Homo sapiens: one gene and its partners. The protein of the gene in region 1 interacts with the protein of each later gene in a pairwise test. Each region holds a gene or a part of one and is shown in the gene's direction. Other genes may lie near its edges.

Evidence for each region.
Region 2: the proteins of UNKL (region 1) and MGAT5B interact in a two-hybrid assay, tested with the Homo sapiens proteins (one large-scale study listed by BioGRID).
Region 3: the proteins of UNKL (region 1) and QKI interact in a two-hybrid assay, tested with the Homo sapiens proteins (one large-scale study listed by BioGRID).
Region 4: the proteins of UNKL (region 1) and DDX50 interact in a two-hybrid assay, tested with the Homo sapiens proteins (one large-scale study listed by BioGRID).
Region 5: the proteins of UNKL (region 1) and CPSF2 interact in a two-hybrid assay, tested with the Homo sapiens proteins (one large-scale study listed by BioGRID).

Annotation. Positions count from the first base shown.
Region 1 is NC_000016.10:1,369,698-1,373,230, reverse strand, and holds part of UNKL (putative E3 ubiquitin-protein ligase UNKL), read left to right. Parts: intron 1-1,619; coding exon 1,620-1,712; intron 1,713-2,873; coding exon 2,874-3,101; exon of another isoform or gene 3,102-3,224; coding exon of another isoform or gene 3,225-3,297; intron 3,298-3,533. UniProt on the Homo sapiens protein: May participate in a protein complex showing an E3 ligase activity regulated by RAC1. Ubiquitination is directed towards itself and possibly other substrates, such as SMARCD2/BAF60b. Intrinsic E3 ligase activity has not been proven.
Region 2 is NC_000017.11:76,937,887-76,941,419, forward strand, and holds part of MGAT5B (alpha-1,6-mannosylglycoprotein 6-beta-N-acetylglucosaminyltransferase B), read left to right. Parts: intron 1-101; coding exon 102-257; intron 258-2,515; coding exon 2,516-2,662; intron 2,663-2,845; coding exon 2,846-2,962; intron 2,963-3,533. UniProt on the Homo sapiens protein: Glycosyltransferase that acts on alpha-linked mannose of N-glycans and O-mannosyl glycans.
Region 3 is NC_000006.12:163,533,205-163,536,737, forward strand, and holds part of QKI (KH domain-containing RNA-binding protein QKI), read left to right. Parts: intron 1-1,777; coding exon 1,778-1,921; intron 1,922-3,533. UniProt on the Homo sapiens protein: RNA reader protein, which recognizes and binds specific RNAs, thereby regulating RNA metabolic processes, such as pre-mRNA splicing, circular RNA (circRNA) formation, mRNA export, mRNA stability and/or translation.
Region 4 is NC_000010.11:68,907,815-68,911,314, forward strand, and holds part of DDX50 (ATP-dependent RNA helicase DDX50), read left to right. Parts: intron 1-96; exon of another isoform or gene 97-156; intron 157-2,492; coding exon 2,493-2,568; intron 2,569-3,253; coding exon 3,254-3,432; intron 3,433-3,500. UniProt on the Homo sapiens protein: ATP-dependent RNA helicase that may play a role in various aspects of RNA metabolism including pre-mRNA splicing or ribosomal RNA production.
Region 5 is NC_000014.9:92,169,807-92,172,645, forward strand, and holds the end of CPSF2 (cleavage and polyadenylation specificity factor subunit 2), read left to right. Parts: 3' UTR 1-2,339; downstream 2,340-2,839. UniProt on the Homo sapiens protein: Component of the cleavage and polyadenylation specificity factor (CPSF) complex that play a key role in pre-mRNA 3'-end formation, recognizing the AAUAAA signal sequence and interacting with poly(A) polymerase and other factors to bring about cleavage and poly(A) addition.

The DNA of each region.
Region 1 (3,533 bases):
CGGCAGTCCCTGTGCGGTGTGTTCCATGCTGCTGAGGTCTCTGTGCGGTGTTGGCCGGCAGTCCCTGTGCGGTGTGTTCCATGCTGCTGAGGTCTCTGTGCGGTGTTGGCCGGCAGTCCCTGTGTGGTGTGTTCCATGCTGCTGAGGTCTCTGTGCGGTGTAGGCCGGCAGTCCCTGTGTGGTGTGCTCCACGCTGCTGAGGTCTCTGCGGTGTTGGCCGGCAGTCCCTGTGTGGTGTGCCCCACGCTGCTGAGGTCTCTGTGCGGTGTTGGCCGGCAGTCCCTGTGTGGTGTGCCCCACGCTGCTGAGGTCTCTGTGCGGTGTTGGCCGGCAGTCCCTGTGTGGTGTGCTCCACGCTGCTGAGGTCTCTGTGCAGTGTAGGCCGGCAGTCCCTGTGCGGTGTGCCCCACGCTGCTGAGGTCTCTGTGCGGTGTTGGCCACAACACTGGGCTGGGCTGGGGAGGCGGCGCCGGCCCACAGGGTGTATCCCAGAGCTCCTGCAGCCGCTGCGGTCCTCTGGTCTGCCCCAGGTGGCACGTGGGCTCTCAGATCCCAGATCCTCTGGTCACCCCTCACCCCCAACCCAACTTCTGTGCAGTGGCTGCGGGAGTTTGAGACACGCTGTGGCTTCAGGGGCTGGTGGCCTGAGCTCAGCCTCCTCATGATGGCTTCCTAATTCTAGGAAGGGGCAGTGGGGTCCCTGCTTGCCATTCGGGGTTGGGGGTGGGGACTTGGGAGGGAAGGGCCCGTGCAGGAGGGCAGCCCCACGGCCTGCAGGGATGTGTGGGGACAGCCTTGGAAGGCAGGGCTGGCTGGGTGAGGCCACTCTGAGGCGGGTCCTTCCCACTCAGTCTTGAGCCTTGGGAATTGAGGTCTTGGTGCTTGGCATGAAATTGCACGTGAACACCTGCTCCTTGAAATCACCCTCACAGAAAGTTTTTTTTTTGTTTTTGTTTTTGTTTTTTTTGAGATGGAATCTTGCTCTGTCGTCCAGGCTGGAGGGCAGTGGCACGATCTCGGCTCACTGCAAGCTCCGCCTCTGGGGTTCACACCATTCTTCCGCCTCAGCCTCCCGAGTAGCTGGGACTACAGGCACCCGCCACCACGCCTGGCTAATTTTTTGTATTTTTTTTTTTTTGGTTGAGACGGGGTTTCACCGTGTTAGCCAGGATGGTCTCGATCTCCTGACCTTGTGATCTGCCCACCTCGGCCTCCCAAAGTGCTGGGATTACAGGTGTGAGCCACCGCACCCGGCCCTGGAAAGTTTTTTAAACAGTCGAATGTGCACACGTGGACAGATGCTAACACACACTTAGGTATTTAAACTCTGAGGGGCAGCAGCAGCGTGTCAGAGGCGAGGACCCAGCTGCTGGTCTGTGGTGCGGGGCGTCCCACCTGAGCACGCTCGTTTTGCCGGAGGAACAGCCAAGCCTCACACTGCCTGTGGGGGGCTGCGAGGACGGGCTGGGGGTGTCCTTCCCTGGCTGCCCCAGCAACTCCCACGCCTTCTGCCCTTGGTCTCACTCTAAGCCCAGGTGGGACGGTCGTCCTCCTCAGCTAGGCTTCCTGAGCTCTGCAGCGCTGGGTGGGCTGTGGATGATGGGGGGCTCTGTTGACAGGTTCTGCGTTAGACCTGCATCTTAGCAATGTGAATATTGCATCCCTAGAGAAGGACCTGGAAGAGCAAGACGGCCACGACCTGGGAGCAGCAGGTGAGGGTGGGGAGGACCTGGGGCCCTGCTCCTCCAGCCGCTGAACAGCCAAGTGCTGTGGCCGGAGGATCGCTTGAGCCCGGGGAGGTCAAGGCTGCAGTGAGCTGAGGTTGCACCACTGCACTCCTGCCTGGACCACAGGGCAAGACCCGGTGTCTGGTTTTCGGAGCGGGAGGATCCCCTTCTGGCGGTACCTCCTCCTCCTCTCCCTGACTGCCTCTCCCTTTCCCTCCCCTGCACATGGACTCCTCAGCATCTCTCCTGCCTCGGGCCTGCCCACTTCTTCAGTTGACCTTTGTCCCAGCAAAGTGGCCGCGCAGAGACAGGCGGGGCCTTTCCTGAAAGTCTTGATGGTCCCCGAAGGATAAATGTATTCACATTGTAGACAAAAGATTGACATCCATACAAATGTATCTTTTTTTTTTTTTTTTTTTTTGAGACAGAGCCTCGCTCTGTCGCCCAGGCTGGAGTGCAGTGGCGCGATCTCCGCTCACTGCAAGCTCCACCTCCCGGGTTCACGCCATTCTCCTGCCTCAGCCTCCGGAGTAGCTGGGACTACAGGTGCCCGCCACCACGCCCAGCTAATTTTTTGTATTTTTAATAGAGACGGGGTTTCACCATGTTAGCCAGGATGGTCTCCATCTCCTGACCCCGTGATCTGCCCGCCTTGGCCTCCCAAAGTGCTGGGATTACAGGCGTGAGCCAGTGCGCCCGGCCCCATACAAATGTATCTTAACATCGTATACAACATCTTTTCATTCAGCCTAAAAGTGTATCTTTTCTTTCTTTTAAAAGAAAGTAAACCATTTCAGGGGGCCTGGACAAGTGCTGGGAGGACCGTGCCAATGGCTTAGTTGGCCGGCAGGGCCTGGTGGGTGTCCGGCCTCTTTGGGGGGGGCCCATGTTAAACCCCCGTCTCCCCACCTCTGGTTGGAATCCCTTTGAGCCCATGGCTTGCCCAGCTGTGTTGGACATGGCCACCGGGGGCGCTGTGGCTCCAAACACATAGATGGTGGTGGCTGGCCTGGCCCCTATATTCCCACCCCCCATATCCCCACCACCACCACCTGCAGGGTCCGTCTTCCACGGCTGCCGCCCATGGCAGATGTTTGGGCAGAGGCCTGGCGGTACTCCCTTCGCTGACTGGTCCGCCCCCGCCAGGTCCCAGGTCGCTGGCCGGCTCTGCACCTGTCGCCATCCCCGGCTCCCTGCCCAGAGCACCATCGCTACACTCGCCATCCTCTGCGTCCACCTCGCCGCTCGGTTCGCTGTCCCAGCCCCTCCCAGGGCCGGTGGGCTCCTCAGCCATGACGCCTCCCCAGCAGCCGCCACCCCTGCGTTCAGAGCCGGGCACACTGGGCTCTGCAGCCTCATCCTACAGCCCCCTAGGTGAGTGCCGGCTCCCTCCATGCTGGCGTTGCCGTGAAGCCTCCGTGGGGCTCCCTCCCAGATGCCGTCCTGACTGAGGGGCCTCACACGGAACCTTGTGCCCTATCTGTGGTGGCAAACCACATGACCTGCTGCTCACAGGTTCCCCCACGCCGCAGACCGAGTCTCGCTCTGTCGCCCAGGTTGGACTGCAATGGTACGATCTCGGCTCGCCGCAACCTCCGCCTCCCAGGTTCAAGCAATTCTCCTGCCTCAGCCACCCAAGTAGCTGGGACTACAGGCGGGCGCCACCACGCCCAGCTAGTTTTTGTATTTTTAGTAGAGATGGCGTTTCATCACGCTGGCCGGGCCGGTCTCAAACTCCTGACCTCGTGATCTGCCTGCCTTGGCTTCCCAAAGTGTGGGATGACAGTGAGCCACCGTGCCCGGCTA
Region 2 (3,533 bases), on another chromosome or scaffold:
GGGTCCACATCTTCTGACTTCCAGACCAAAGGGATCTCCTCCATGGACTTTGCCTTCTGTGGTTTGCATGTGGTTCCCATCTCCTCCTCTTCTTTTTCCAGGGGAAGGAGAAGTTCCTGGGCATCCTGAACAAATACATGGAGATCCATGGCACCGTGTACTACGAGAGCCAGCGGCCCCCCGAGGTGCCAGCCTTTGTGAAGAACCACGGCCTCTTACCGCAGCCTGAGTTTCAGCAGCTGCTGCGCAAGGCCAAAGTGAGCTCCCATCCCCCGCACCATTCTCACACTTGCCGGCTGCAGACACTGAGGTCACCACCCATGCCTGCCACCACCACTCAGGCCCCTTCCACATATGGACATACCCCAGCATGCTCTGCTGCCCTGAGCCCCACATCTGGCCAGAGCCCAGGGGCAGAGATGTGGGTGCCCACCAGGCAGGAGAGGTCCTATAGAGAAAGGGACCTGGGCAGGGCCAGCAGAGCAGCAGAGCCGTGGCTCAGTGATGGGGAAGTAGAGTTGGACTGCCCATCCTCCCCCTTGCAGTACCAGTCCAGCCAAATGGACTCCTGGGTCAGGCCTAGCTTTTGGAGACACTGAGCTGGGGGGTGGTTGGGTGGGTGGAGAGAAGGGTCCTGGCTAGAGTGCCATTGAGCCACTAGTCCTGAGTGACTGCTTCAGGGGTCCCTGAGCTGTACTGCTGGAGCAGCAGTTGACACAGTGGGCAAAACCCTGACTGGACCCTGGAGTATCAGCTGAGGCTGGAGAGTCTCCAGCCAGCTTCTAGGCACCCCCTCACCCTCTTTTTTATGAGACAGGGTCTTGCTCTGTCACCCACGCTGGAGTGCAGTGGTGCAATCAGGGCCCACTGCAACCTTATATTCCTAGGCTCACACAGTCCCCTCACCTCCACCTCCCGAGTAGCTGGGACTATTGGCATACACCACCACACCTGGCTAATTTTTAAATTTTTTGTAGAGATGGTGTCTTCCTACATTGCCCAGGCTGGTGTCAATCTCCTGGGCTTAAGCGATCCTACCACCTCGGCCTCTCAAAGTGCTGGGATTACAGATGTGAGCCACTGCACCTGGCCCCAGGCCCTCTCTTGATCTCACCATAGCTTGTTTCCCAAGGCATCTTGGGGGTGTGTGTGTGTGTGTGTGTGTGTGTGTGTGTGTGTGTGTGTGTGTTGGGGGCAGTGGAGATGCTTGCATGCAGTGAATAACCTGAACAACCTCACAGAACAGCCCTGGATTCAGAATCATTTATTAAGTGCCTTTGAGGCCAGCCCTGTGCACTCCTAGCACAAGTTACTTAAAAAATAATAATTTTGGCCAGGTGCGGTGGCTCACACCTGTAATCCCAACACTTTGGGAGGCCGAGGTGGGCGGATCACGAGGTTAGGATATCGAGACCATCCTGGCCAACATGGTGAAACCCTGTCTCTACTAAAATACAAACAAACAAACAAACAAAAAATCAGCTGGGTGTGGTGGCGGGCGCCTGTAGTCCTGGCTACTCAGGAGGGTGAGACAGGGGAATTGCTTGAACCCGGGAGGCAGAGGTTGCAGTGAGATGAGATGGTGCCACCGCACTCCAGCCTGGTGACAGAGCAAGACTCCGTCTCAAAATTTTTTTTCAACTTTTATTTTAGGTTTAAGGGGTACATATGCAGGCTTGGTACCTGGGTATATTGCATAATGCTGAGGTTTGTGATATGAAGGATCTTGTCACCCAGGTAGTGAGGATAGTACCCAGTAGTTAATTCTTCCGTCTTTACCCCCTTCCTCCTCCCCACTCTGGGAGTCCCCAGGTGTCTGTTGTTGCCATCTTTATGCCCATAAGTACCCAATGTTCAGCTCCCACTTATAAGTGAGAATATGCGGTATTTGGTTTCTGTTCCAGCTTTAATTCACTTAGGATATTGGCCTCCTGCTGTATCCATATTGCTGAAAAGGACATGATTTTGTTTTTTTTTATGTCTGCGTAGTATCTTATGGTGTCTATGTACCATACTTTCTTTATCCAAGCCACCGTTAATGGGCACCTCCGTTGGTTCCATGTCTTTGCTGTTGTAAATAGCCTCACACAAGTTAGATGCTGAATAAATGTTTTTGGGATGAGTGAGTGAGGTTCCTGGAGGTCTCTTGCAGGTGCGGGCCTGCAGCTTTCTTGGCCTGAAACCCTTGTTCTTTTCTTCCTCCCTCCACAATCATAAATCATAGCCTGATAGAGCAAGAAGAGACCATTGATAATACCTAATTAGACCCCCTTATTTCACAAATGGGGAAACTGAGGCCCAGAGAGGGGAAGTGCTTGCCCGTGGCACAAGATGTTCTGGGCTGGCTTTTCCAGCCCTGTTATAGCTCACATAACAGGCTGAGCAAAAATAATCGCTCCAGGCCCAGCTGCCTCCTGTGAATATCCCGAAGCCTCACCTTGTCCCCGGCATCCTGGTGCTTACTGGGCTGTGGCGGCCCAGCCCTCCCTGATCACTGCGCCCCTTGACTCTGCAGCTCTTCATCGGGTTTGGCTTCCCCTACGAGGGCCCCGCCCCCCTGGAGGCCATCGCCAATGGTTGCATCTTCCTGCAGTCCCGCTTCAGCCCGCCCCACAGCTCCCTCAACCACGAGTTCTTCCGAGGCAAGCCCACCTCCAGAGAGGTGAGTGGAAAGCATCCTGGTCCCCGATCAGGAGGGGCCGGGACAGAGACCCCTGCAGGTCCTGGAAGAGGCAGACTGAGATGTGGGGCAAAAGGAGATAGGACAAGTGTATGGGGTACCTTTCTTTGTCCCTGTCCCACTGGCAGGCACGGGGGGCATCTGCAATCTCTGTACCCTTGCCAGGTGTTCTCCCAGCATCCCTACGCGGAGAACTTCATCGGCAAGCCCCACGTGTGGACAGTCGACTACAACAACTCAGAGGAGTTTGAAGCAGCCATCAAGGCCATTATGAGAACTCAGGTGAGAGCAGCCACATACAGTTGAGACCCCCCACTAGTCCACACTGCTGGTCTTCACTCTGATTAGAAAACGGTGCCCCCCTCTGGGTGAGTTCAGACTTGCAGGCCTGGGTTGGCAAAGGTGTCCATCCCTCCCCTGGTCAGACACAGCCCTGAGCCAGGGCATGTGGATTGGAGAATGGAATGGGGGATCCCATTCATCTACTCAGGTGTGATGTGTGGGGAATGCCTTTGTGCAGTGAGCAACCTGCACAACCTTACATGGCAGCCCTGGATCTCAAATTGTTTATGGAGCACTTTTGAGGGCCAGGTGCTAACTGAATGTTTTCACGATGGATGTGTGGAGGTTCTTGAAACTGCTGCAGGTGTGGCTTTGCAGCCTTTACACAGCACATTTCAAAATATAATGTGCATACAGAGCGTCTGTTAATGCGGGGCAACGCTTCGAGTAGCAAGGGGGCAGAACACCCTGGGTCTCCAGCGAACGTGGGTGCTGGTGTGTGTAGGTGCACATGTGTGGGCTGGGTGAGAGTGAGGAGGGGCTTGTGCCTGATGCTCATCTCCGCAGTGGA
Region 3 (3,533 bases), on another chromosome or scaffold:
ACAATTGAAATCTGGATAACAAAACTAATTTTTCTTGCCACAGTTAGAGATATTAATACATATTTTATTTCTTGCCATACAGATAACCCTGAGGTTTCCAGTTTCTTGATTCATTGACTCCTTGGTTTCCCACTTAGTTTGCATGGTGTACCCTAGTCAAAAAGAAATATTTCAGAGTTCTGTTTATTAAATATTTACTCTACAAACAACTTTGAAACAGACTATACATTTTATTTGTAAATAACCACATTTTTACTAATAGCATTTGTATTTTCTTGGGTGCTGTTCAAATTCTCAAACTTTGGAATCAGATTTTTGTACTGCCACCCTCTTTTCTTGTTCCACATTGATTTTTGTATGTTCTTGATTTTTATTACAGCAACCGCTAACAACCTAGCTTTGTAAAGATATGACATCATCAAAAAGAATGTAATGTGACCTTATGTTGAAACAGTCAGATATTCTGAGCTGGTGGTTCACACAGTGTCGGACAGATGGTACCCCTGTAAAATGCTGTGCTGACTCAGAGTTCACTCTTTGGAAATACATAGATGGCCCAGCATAGGATTGTGTCTGATTTTTTTTTTCCCTGTATCCCCTTACAATATGTGGATGCATTTTCATCCTAAAGATGTGTTGATTAAAAATAAAGCAGAAGCATTTACTGTTAAAATTTATTTTTAGCCTTATTGGCTAAGCTCAATCATGTGAATTGTTGCAGAAAGCAGTTTTATTATGCCTGCTTTATTTTCTTTTACTGGAATCTAACAATTAGGTAAATAGTAACTTCTAAAATAAAGGTCCAAAAACAGCAGATATTTATTGTTTGTCTGTGGTACCTTGCTGTGTGCCAGGTGCATTTATATTTACCATTTATATACTACTTATATATTCTTATTTTATTTAAAAACACTTTCTCTAAAACTTAAAACAGCGATTCTGAAATTATGCCAACTCTACTTAACCTCCCTGTAGCTTAACCAGGTTTTCAACATGGGGATATTTCTTACTAGAAGACATTAAGGAAATGAAATATAGATATTCTCTATGAAACTAGTATTTATGACTTGATATAATTAAAGAGTAGCCTTACAGTTAATTTTAAGGTATGGTCTGATGGGAATGTAGATAAAACTATTTTCATAATTACCGCATGAAATACTTAAAACAAGTGGTAGTCATCTTACACAATAACATCTATATGCAAAATACCTTTTCTAATGCTGAATACAACCAATGTCATTAAAAGCAGTTGTAATGAAGTGGAAAGATCACTGAATTAGAGAATGAAAACTTTGATTCAGTTCCTAAATTGACAGCCTGTTAGCTGTGTGACATTGAGAGGTGACCCCCTTAACCTTGATGACCTTCTGTTTACTTATAAGTAAAATGCAGAAATAATGACATGTTTCTCAAAGTGTTTTTCATGGTAATGTAAGGACAGTATCAGATGTATGTTGTATGATACTACATACATGATGATGATGTATGCTTCTAGTGCATAGGAGCACGCTTGGGGCTGATCTTTAGCATCTGGTTCTGTGCCTGGTAGATAGTAAGTGCTCAGTAAATACTTGTTGGATTAATTATCATTTGACCCAGTAGTCTCACATTCAATCAAACTTTGAGGACCCAGAAAAATAATTCAAAGACTTGTGCCATCATAGCAAAATAATGCAAACATAGCTGAAATAATTGACAACAGGTTAGTATTATGAAAGATGTGCTCTCTCTTTAAAGAGAATAATTTTAATCATGTACTCTGTAAATTTTTTAGGAGGAGCAAAATAGAGGCAAGCCCAATTGGGAGCATCTAAATGAAGATTTACATGTACTAATCACTGTGGAAGATGCTCAGAACAGAGCAGAAATCAAATTGAAGAGAGCAGTTGAAGAAGTGAAGAAATTATTGGTACCTGCAGTAAGTAATAATTTCCAGACCTTAGATTTGGGCCTCGTCCTTTTTTGTCAGTTTATTTTAAATTATCGTAATGTTTATAAGGAATAGGTTATTGGTTGTTAGAAATTTTATTTAAGCATAAAATTAAAAACACCTGACTGATACTTCTAACATAATAAAAACATAAAGTTCGTATTTAGGGGTCCTTAGATAGACATTAAAAGGGGTTTTGGAGGGTGACGTCGCGTAAGAAATTATCCAGATGCTTTTGTGTTATCAGTTCTCCTTCCTTCCCGGTTTCTCTTTCCCCATCTCTTCCCCCATCTCTTCCCTCTGCCCCCCTTCCTTGGGTTGGCTCCTTATTGTTTCTTAACCCTTTAATATTTTTAGAAATAATAATTGTACTACTCCCAGAGTATAATTTTTTTTTTTTTAACGGGAAATGAAAAATAAATTACTGGTTTTCTGGGCCATTAATTTTTTTTTCTTATATTAGTAAAACTATATGGAAATGTGGACCCTAATTTGCTATTGGAAAAACTAGGGCTGGGTGCGGTGGCTCATGCCTGTAATCCCAGCACTTTGGGAGGCTGAGGCGGTTGGATCACCTGAGGTCAGGAGTTTGAGCCCAGCCTGGCCAACATGGTGAAACCCCATCTCTACTAAAAATACAAAAAATAAGTCGGGCGTGATGGCAGGCACCTGTAATCCCAGCTACTTGGGAGGCTGAGGCATGAGAATCGCCTGAGCCTGGGAGGCAGAGGTTGCAGTGAGCTGAGATTGCGCCACTATACTCCAGCCTGGGTGACAGAGTGAGACCCTGTCTCAAAAAAGAAAAGAAAAAACTAGGAATACTGTTAGTATTGTGTCCAACAAAAAGCATTGGCATTTACATAAATGAGTTATGGTTCCTGCTGCTTTTTATTTCCCAGATAGCCTATTCTTTATTACCCTGATAGTTTATTCAACAAGTAAACTCACAAATCATAAACATTTCCCATTAACTTGATGAAATTAATTCCTTGGAATAAAAGAGTTTTATGTAAATTCTGTTGGTAGATTTTATTTTTTTTAATGATCAGGTTAAATATAAACTAAAATCTATATTTGTGTACTATTAAACCATGGAATCTTTCTCATTTTCCTTAATTGTGTGGTATTGAAAAACTGTATAGAAAAGGAGATTTTCGAAAGTATACTGGGCAATTAGTGTCATGATCAGAAAAAGTTATTTAACATCGACTTTTACTGCTTTAATAACATTTTCTTTTCTGTAGCTTACTTTATTGTAAGAATACGGTATATAACATATAAAACATACAAAATATATGTTGATCAACTGTCAGGCTTCCAGACGACAGTGGGCTATTCGTCACATTTTGGGAGAGTTGAAAGTTACACAAGGATCTTTGATGCAGTCTGTGTCCCTGACAACCGAGCCCTCCCTTGTTGTTTGAGGATCAACTGGATATTGTTAGCGTCTTTTAAATTTTCTATTTACCCAGTCACCTGTAATCTCTTGTCTTGCTTACCATTTTTATTTCTAGTGTTTAGCATAGAGCCCAGCACATAGCAATAACATAGTAAATTGAAAAATAAATGATTGAATCTTGTCATAAGGTAAAATCAGTTC
Region 4 (3,500 bases), on another chromosome or scaffold:
TAGCAGTGGAATGTATGGCTTGCTTCTCACTTTGGTGGGATTTTGCCTGGTAAAATCTGTATTATAATAGGTTTAACAGTTTATTATTTTGTTTAGATCACATGAGAGTTCAGGAATTCTACTTAAAGGAATTTATCCTAAGGAGATGATGAAGAGGTGTGCAGAGCTGTATGAATAAGTACTCTTATCATAGTAATATTGTTGATAATAGGAAAATATTTAAACATCCTAAATGTCTGATAGTAGACATTTGGTTTAAATAAAACATACTATAGCTGTATAATAGAATACAGCTATCCCAAAGGGTGTACAATAGAAAAGGTAGTCATTGTATCTTGTTAAAAGAAAAAAATAGGCTGGGCGCAGTGGCTCACGCCTGTAATCCCAGCACTTTGGGAGGCTGAGGCAGGTGGATCACCTGAGATCAGGAGTTCCAAGACCAGCCTGACCGACATGGTGAAACCTGTCTCTACTAAATACAAAAAAATTAGTTGGGTGTGGTGGCGCATGCCTGTAATCCCAGCTACTTGGGAGGCTGAGGCAGGAGAATCGCTTGAACCTGGGAAGTGGAGGTTGCAGTGAGCCGAGATTGCACCATTGCACTCCAGCCTGGTCAACAAGAGCGAAACTCCATCTCAAAAAAAAAAAAAAAAAAAAAAAGATTATAAAATGGTATATACAGTGTGATTTTATTTCTATTTAAAAAATTTTATGTGCATAGAGTGAAGACTGGAGGAGTATGTTTCAAATATGGCTTTAGCTGAGTGGATTATAAATAATTTTTAAATTTGTTTCTGTTTCCTCTGTAGTTTTTAAAATTTCCTTTTTTTTTTTTTTTTTTTTTGAGATGGGGTCTCACTCTGTCACCTAGGATGGAGTGCAGTGGTGTGATCATGGCTCACTGCAGCCTCATCCTCCCTGGGCTCAGGTGATCCTCCCACCTCAGCCTCCTGAGTAGCTGGGACTATAGGCGTGTAGCACCATGCCTGGCTAATTTGTGTATTTTTGGGAGAAATGGTGTTTCATTCACTATGTTGCCCAGACTGGTCTTGAACTCCTGGGCTCAAGTAATCCACCCACCTTGGCCTCCCAAAGTGCTGGGATTACAGACATAAACCACTGGGCTCTGCCAGTTTCAAAAGTTTCTACAATGACAGTGTATTGTTTATTTTTGTTTGTTTGTTTGTTTTTTATAGAGACAAGGTCTCACTGTATTGCTCAGGCTAGTCTTGAACTCCTGGGCTTAAGTGATCCTACCACCTTGGCCTCCCAAAATGCTGGAATTACAGGCATGAGCCACCACGCCTGGCCGACAGTGTATTATTTTTATAATTTTTTTTATCATAAAAAGGTAACAGCAGCATTGAAGTTTGTTTAAATGGCATGCCATTTGAATTTGAAATTATTTTTTATCTAATTCCAAGTTTGAAAATTGTTAGTGTGTGTTTCTTTAAACACATGAACAATAAAGCTTACTGGGTAGACACACTGTTTTTGTTCTATGTGCACATTAGTATACAAAGTTTTCAATAAATGTTAAATGATAATCTCATGGTAACTTGTATATATGTTAAAGAAATCTTCAAGCTTACGGTAACTTTCTCTTGTATTAGCAACCTAAATAAGCTTTCAAACGCTGTAGAATAAATTTTTAACTTATTTTCAGAAAAACTTTACATTCCTCATTATATACTTTCTTTTAGCTTAGTTTATAGGCTTGTGTTAATCTTTATAATTTTGTCTACATCTGTATGATTTAGATGAATAAATAACCTTTTTGGCTGGGCATAATGGCTTATGCTTGTAATCCCAGCAGTTTGGAGGCCAAGGTAGGAGGATCTTTTTTTTTTTCTTGTTCTTCTTTTGAGACAGAGTTTCGCTCTTGTTGCCCCGGCTGGAGTGCCATGGTGCAATCTCGGCTCACTACAACCTCTGCCTCCTGGGTTCAAGCAATTATCCTGCCTCAGCCTCCCGAGTAGCTGGGATTACAGGCATGCGCCACCATGCCTGGCTAATTTTGTATTGTTAGTAGAGACAGGGTTTCTCCATGTTGGTCAGGCTGGTCTTGAACTCCTGACCTCACATGATCCACCTGCCTTGGCCTCCCAAAGTGCTGGGATTACGGGCATGAGCCACCGCACCTGGCCAGGAGGATCTCTTGAGGCCAGGAGTTTAAGATCTGCCTGGATAACATGGTGAGACCCTGTCTCTACAAAAAATAAAAAACTAAGTGAGCATGGTGGCATGCGCCTGTGGTCCTAGCTGCTTGGGAGGCTGAGGTTGGTAGGATTTGAGCCCGGAGGTTGAGGCCACAGTGAGCTGTGATGGTGCCACTGCACTCCAACCTGGGCAACAGAGTGGGACCCTGTTTCAAAAAAAAAAAAAAAGTGTTCCACTAATTTTCCTTGTAAGTTAATCTGTAAAAAATTAAAAACAGTAAATGAGGAAGAGTTGAGTATAAATTATTTAGGCCATTGATTTCATTTTTACAGACCTTAACACGTGAACAGAAAGAAGGAGCCTTCTCCAATTTTCCTATTTCTGAAGAGACTATAAAGCTTCTGAAAGGTATGCAGTTTGGTTGTTGTTGTTATTGTTGTTGTTTTGAGACAGAGCCTCGCTCTGTTGCCCAGGCTGGAGTGCAGTGGGGCAGTCTTGGCTCACTGCAACCTCCGCCTCCTGGGTTCAAGCGATTCTCCTACCTCAGCCTGCTGAGTAGTTGGGATTATAGGCGTGTGCCACCATGCCCGGCTAAGTTTCATATTTTTAGTAGAGACGCAGTTTCACTGTGTTGGTCAGGCTGGTCTCAAACTCCTGACCTCCTGATCTGTTCCAGTTGGGTTACCAAAGTGCTGGGATTACAGGCGTGAGCCACCACGGCTGGCCCAAAGGTTTGCAGTTTTAATGGATATGCAATTAAAAATCTATCACTAGATTTTGTAAAACTCCTGTGCCTTTTCTGACCAAAAGGAGAACATAAAAAGCATAGAGAAGTAGCTCTTCTTTAATTGCACTTACTTTTACATCATCCTTTTCAATATTCTGCCTTGTTTTTAGCTTTAAGATTTATATGCATTCGTCAAAAGTTTAGACTAATTTTTTAGTAATGCTTGTTTGTGGTAGGAATAACTGTGTCACCAGGTGGCATGTCTTTAGGCAGACATAGAAGAATTATGATTGTCATTTTCAAATGAATATATTTTTTCCTAATGCTAGTCGTAAAGAAGTATTTTAATTAAATCTCATTTTACAGGTCGAGGGGTAACATATCTCTTTCCTATTCAAGTTAAGACCTTTGGTCCTGTATATGAAGGAAAAGATTTAATAGCTCAAGCACGGACAGGAACAGGAAAGACATTCTCTTTTGCCATCCCCTTAATTGAAAGACTCCAAAGAAATCAAGAAACAATTAAAAAAAGCCGCTCACCAAAGGTAATCGTTATAGGGGGTAAAAGCTTTAAATGTTACTCTAACAGAAAGGGAAAGAAAGTTACACGAGT
Region 5 (2,839 bases), on another chromosome or scaffold:
ATGAAACCGTTAAGTAGAGATTTTTCTAATAGTATAAAAATCAGTGTAGGCCCAGCACAGTGGTTCACACCTGTAATCCCAGCACCTTGGGAGGCTAAAGGCAGGAGGATTGCTTGAGCTCAGGAGTTTGAGACCAACCTGGGCAACATAGTGAGAACTCATCTCTATTAAAAATCAGAAAAATTGGCCAGGTGTGGTGGCTCATGCCTGTAGTCCCAGTTACTCAGGAGGCTGAGGCAGGAGGATCCCTTGAGATTGAGGCTTCAGTGAGCTAATGATCGCGCCACTGCACTCCAGCCTGGGTGACAGAGTGAGACCCTGTCTCAAAAACAACAAAAATCTCAGTGTGACAAATTCCTAACAGCTCAAATACTACTTGTCTTATTTGTTAACTATTTTGAAATAATTTTAAACTTACAGAAAAGTAGAATAGTTCAAAAGATCCTGTATATCCTTCCCCTAGATTCTTCTATTGTTAACATCTTGCCATATTTTCCATACCACTCTCTAGCTATGTATTCACATTATTTTTTGAACTGTTTGTTACTAAGTTGCAATTGTGATGTCCCATTAGTACTAAATACTTAAGTGTATACTTTTTAAAAACAAGGACACTCCTACATAACCACAGTACTTAAAATCAGGAAACCAGCATTGATAAAATTCTACCATTTGATCCACGAACCCCATTCAAATGTTGCCATTTACTCCAAAAATATCCTTACAATAACCCTTTCCTTTTTTGGTCCACAGTCCAATCAGGATGAAGCACGCATTTAGTTACATTTTCCCTTTAGTCTTCCTCAATCTGGAGCGGTTCCTTGGTTTTTCCTTTTTTGTGACCTTGACATTTTTGAAGAATGCAGGCCAGGTACTTTGTAGAATGATGTGCACTTTGGGTTTGTCTGATATTTCCTCAAGATTAGATTCAGGTTGTGAATTTTTGGCAGGAATACCAGAGAGGTGATGCTGTCTTCTTCTCTGCATTGTATCAGGAGGCACATCATGTCAATTTTTTCCATTACTGGTGATGTTAATTTTTAACAGTTGGTTACGATGTTTTCAAGATTTCTCCACTGTTAGTATTTTCTCCACTTGTATTTGTTTTTTGGTATAAACTTAAAAAGTACAGCATGATGTTTTGGTATATGTATCCATAGTGAAATGATTATTACAGGTATTAATTAATGAGGAATTACGTATTTTGTGGGTAGCTATTTTGAGACTCTCAATATCCTATTTCTCAAAATTTTACCCTTTACTTTTAGCATCCATTGATGATCCTTGTCTGGATCAGTTATTGCCAAATGGTAGTTTTCTTTTCTTTTCTTTTCTTTTGAGACAGTGTCTTGCTCTGTTGCCCAGGCTACAGTGCAGTGATGAGATCATAGCCCACTGCAGCCTCAAACTCCTGGGCTCATGCCATTTTCCCCTCAGCTTTTGGAGTTAGCTGGGACTACAGGCATGCATCACCACACCCAGATTATTTTTAAAGTTTTTGTAGAAACGGGGTCTCTTCTTCCCCATTTATTCAATATTTATATCAGTATAGAACATGGGTCCCTGTTTTATCATCTGTAAGTTATGATTTATTTTGATGCCCCCATTGTCCAAGATTTGACTAGCGAGAGCACTTTCCAGCTAGCTCCTGTGTCCTTTGGACATACCCCATGGTTCATTGAGCACTTCCTTGCTTTCTGGCACCACAAGATGTTCCAGGCTCGTCTTCTATTTTCCCTACCCCGCTCCTGACATCAGCCATTTCTCCAAAGAGTCCTGGTTCATATTAGTGGAGAATGGTATTTAAAACCAAGATCCGGATGCTAAAGGCTGTGCTCATTGCCCCTGTGCTAGCATTGCCACTGTGCGTTCTCCCAGTGGACAAATTTGGAAATATATGCGTCTATGCTTGTTACCTCATCCATCCATATATATATTAAAAACAAGTACACACTGATACCTATTTCACATCTACTCCACAGAGTTTATTCTAGTCTTCTCCCTTTCCACAATTGTATCTTCTCCACCCTATATTTAAAAACTGGACTTCCAGAGTCTCCAATACATTGGCTTATTTGTTCATTTTCCCTGTGATTAACCAACCTCCTGACCACGTGGCTGGCTCCTTTGCTCCATCTCTGCCCCTCACCCCCTACCGTACATCACTGCTGTGAGGACCAAGTTTCCTCCCTTTCCTCGATCCATGACAGCACCTGCCAGTTGAACCCCACAGTGGGAATTTTAAAGAAGGCACTTTTGGCTCAGATGGCAGTGCCAAAGCAGGCATTCCAATTCACATGGTGCTCTAGCAATTGTGAAATAAACAGATTCTGAAGGTCTGTCCTGGACTGTGTATAGTCTTTGGGTTTTTGTCTTGCTTATTTTGTTAAAATGTTTTCCTGATGACTTTCTATTCTATAGTAAAGCCTTATACATAATGTTCAAGCAGGCGTCAGACAAAATAATGATCATTGTGGAGAGGAGTTAGGAAGGAAAAGATGAAAAGGAAGAAGGCGTAAACCCAATATTGAGAGGAGAAATGGGTACGGCAGGAGTAGCCGTCTGAATCCGAAATGCTGTCTGAGCCAGGACACATTCACAGTTAGAGATCTTAAGTAATGTGTTAATATTATTTTATAACTGTCCTTGCAAAAACAAAACAAAACTGCCTGTCAGTTCATTTGGATCATCCACCCACTTAAGTTTTAGGAGTGTCAGGACCAAGTTAGCTGTATTGAGTGCTGAGGTGTTCTTTTATTAAACAGTCAGCTATTCAATCTTAATAATTTGTAGTGGGAGGAATAATATGCCCCTGGACAAATAATTCCTTGGAAAGCTC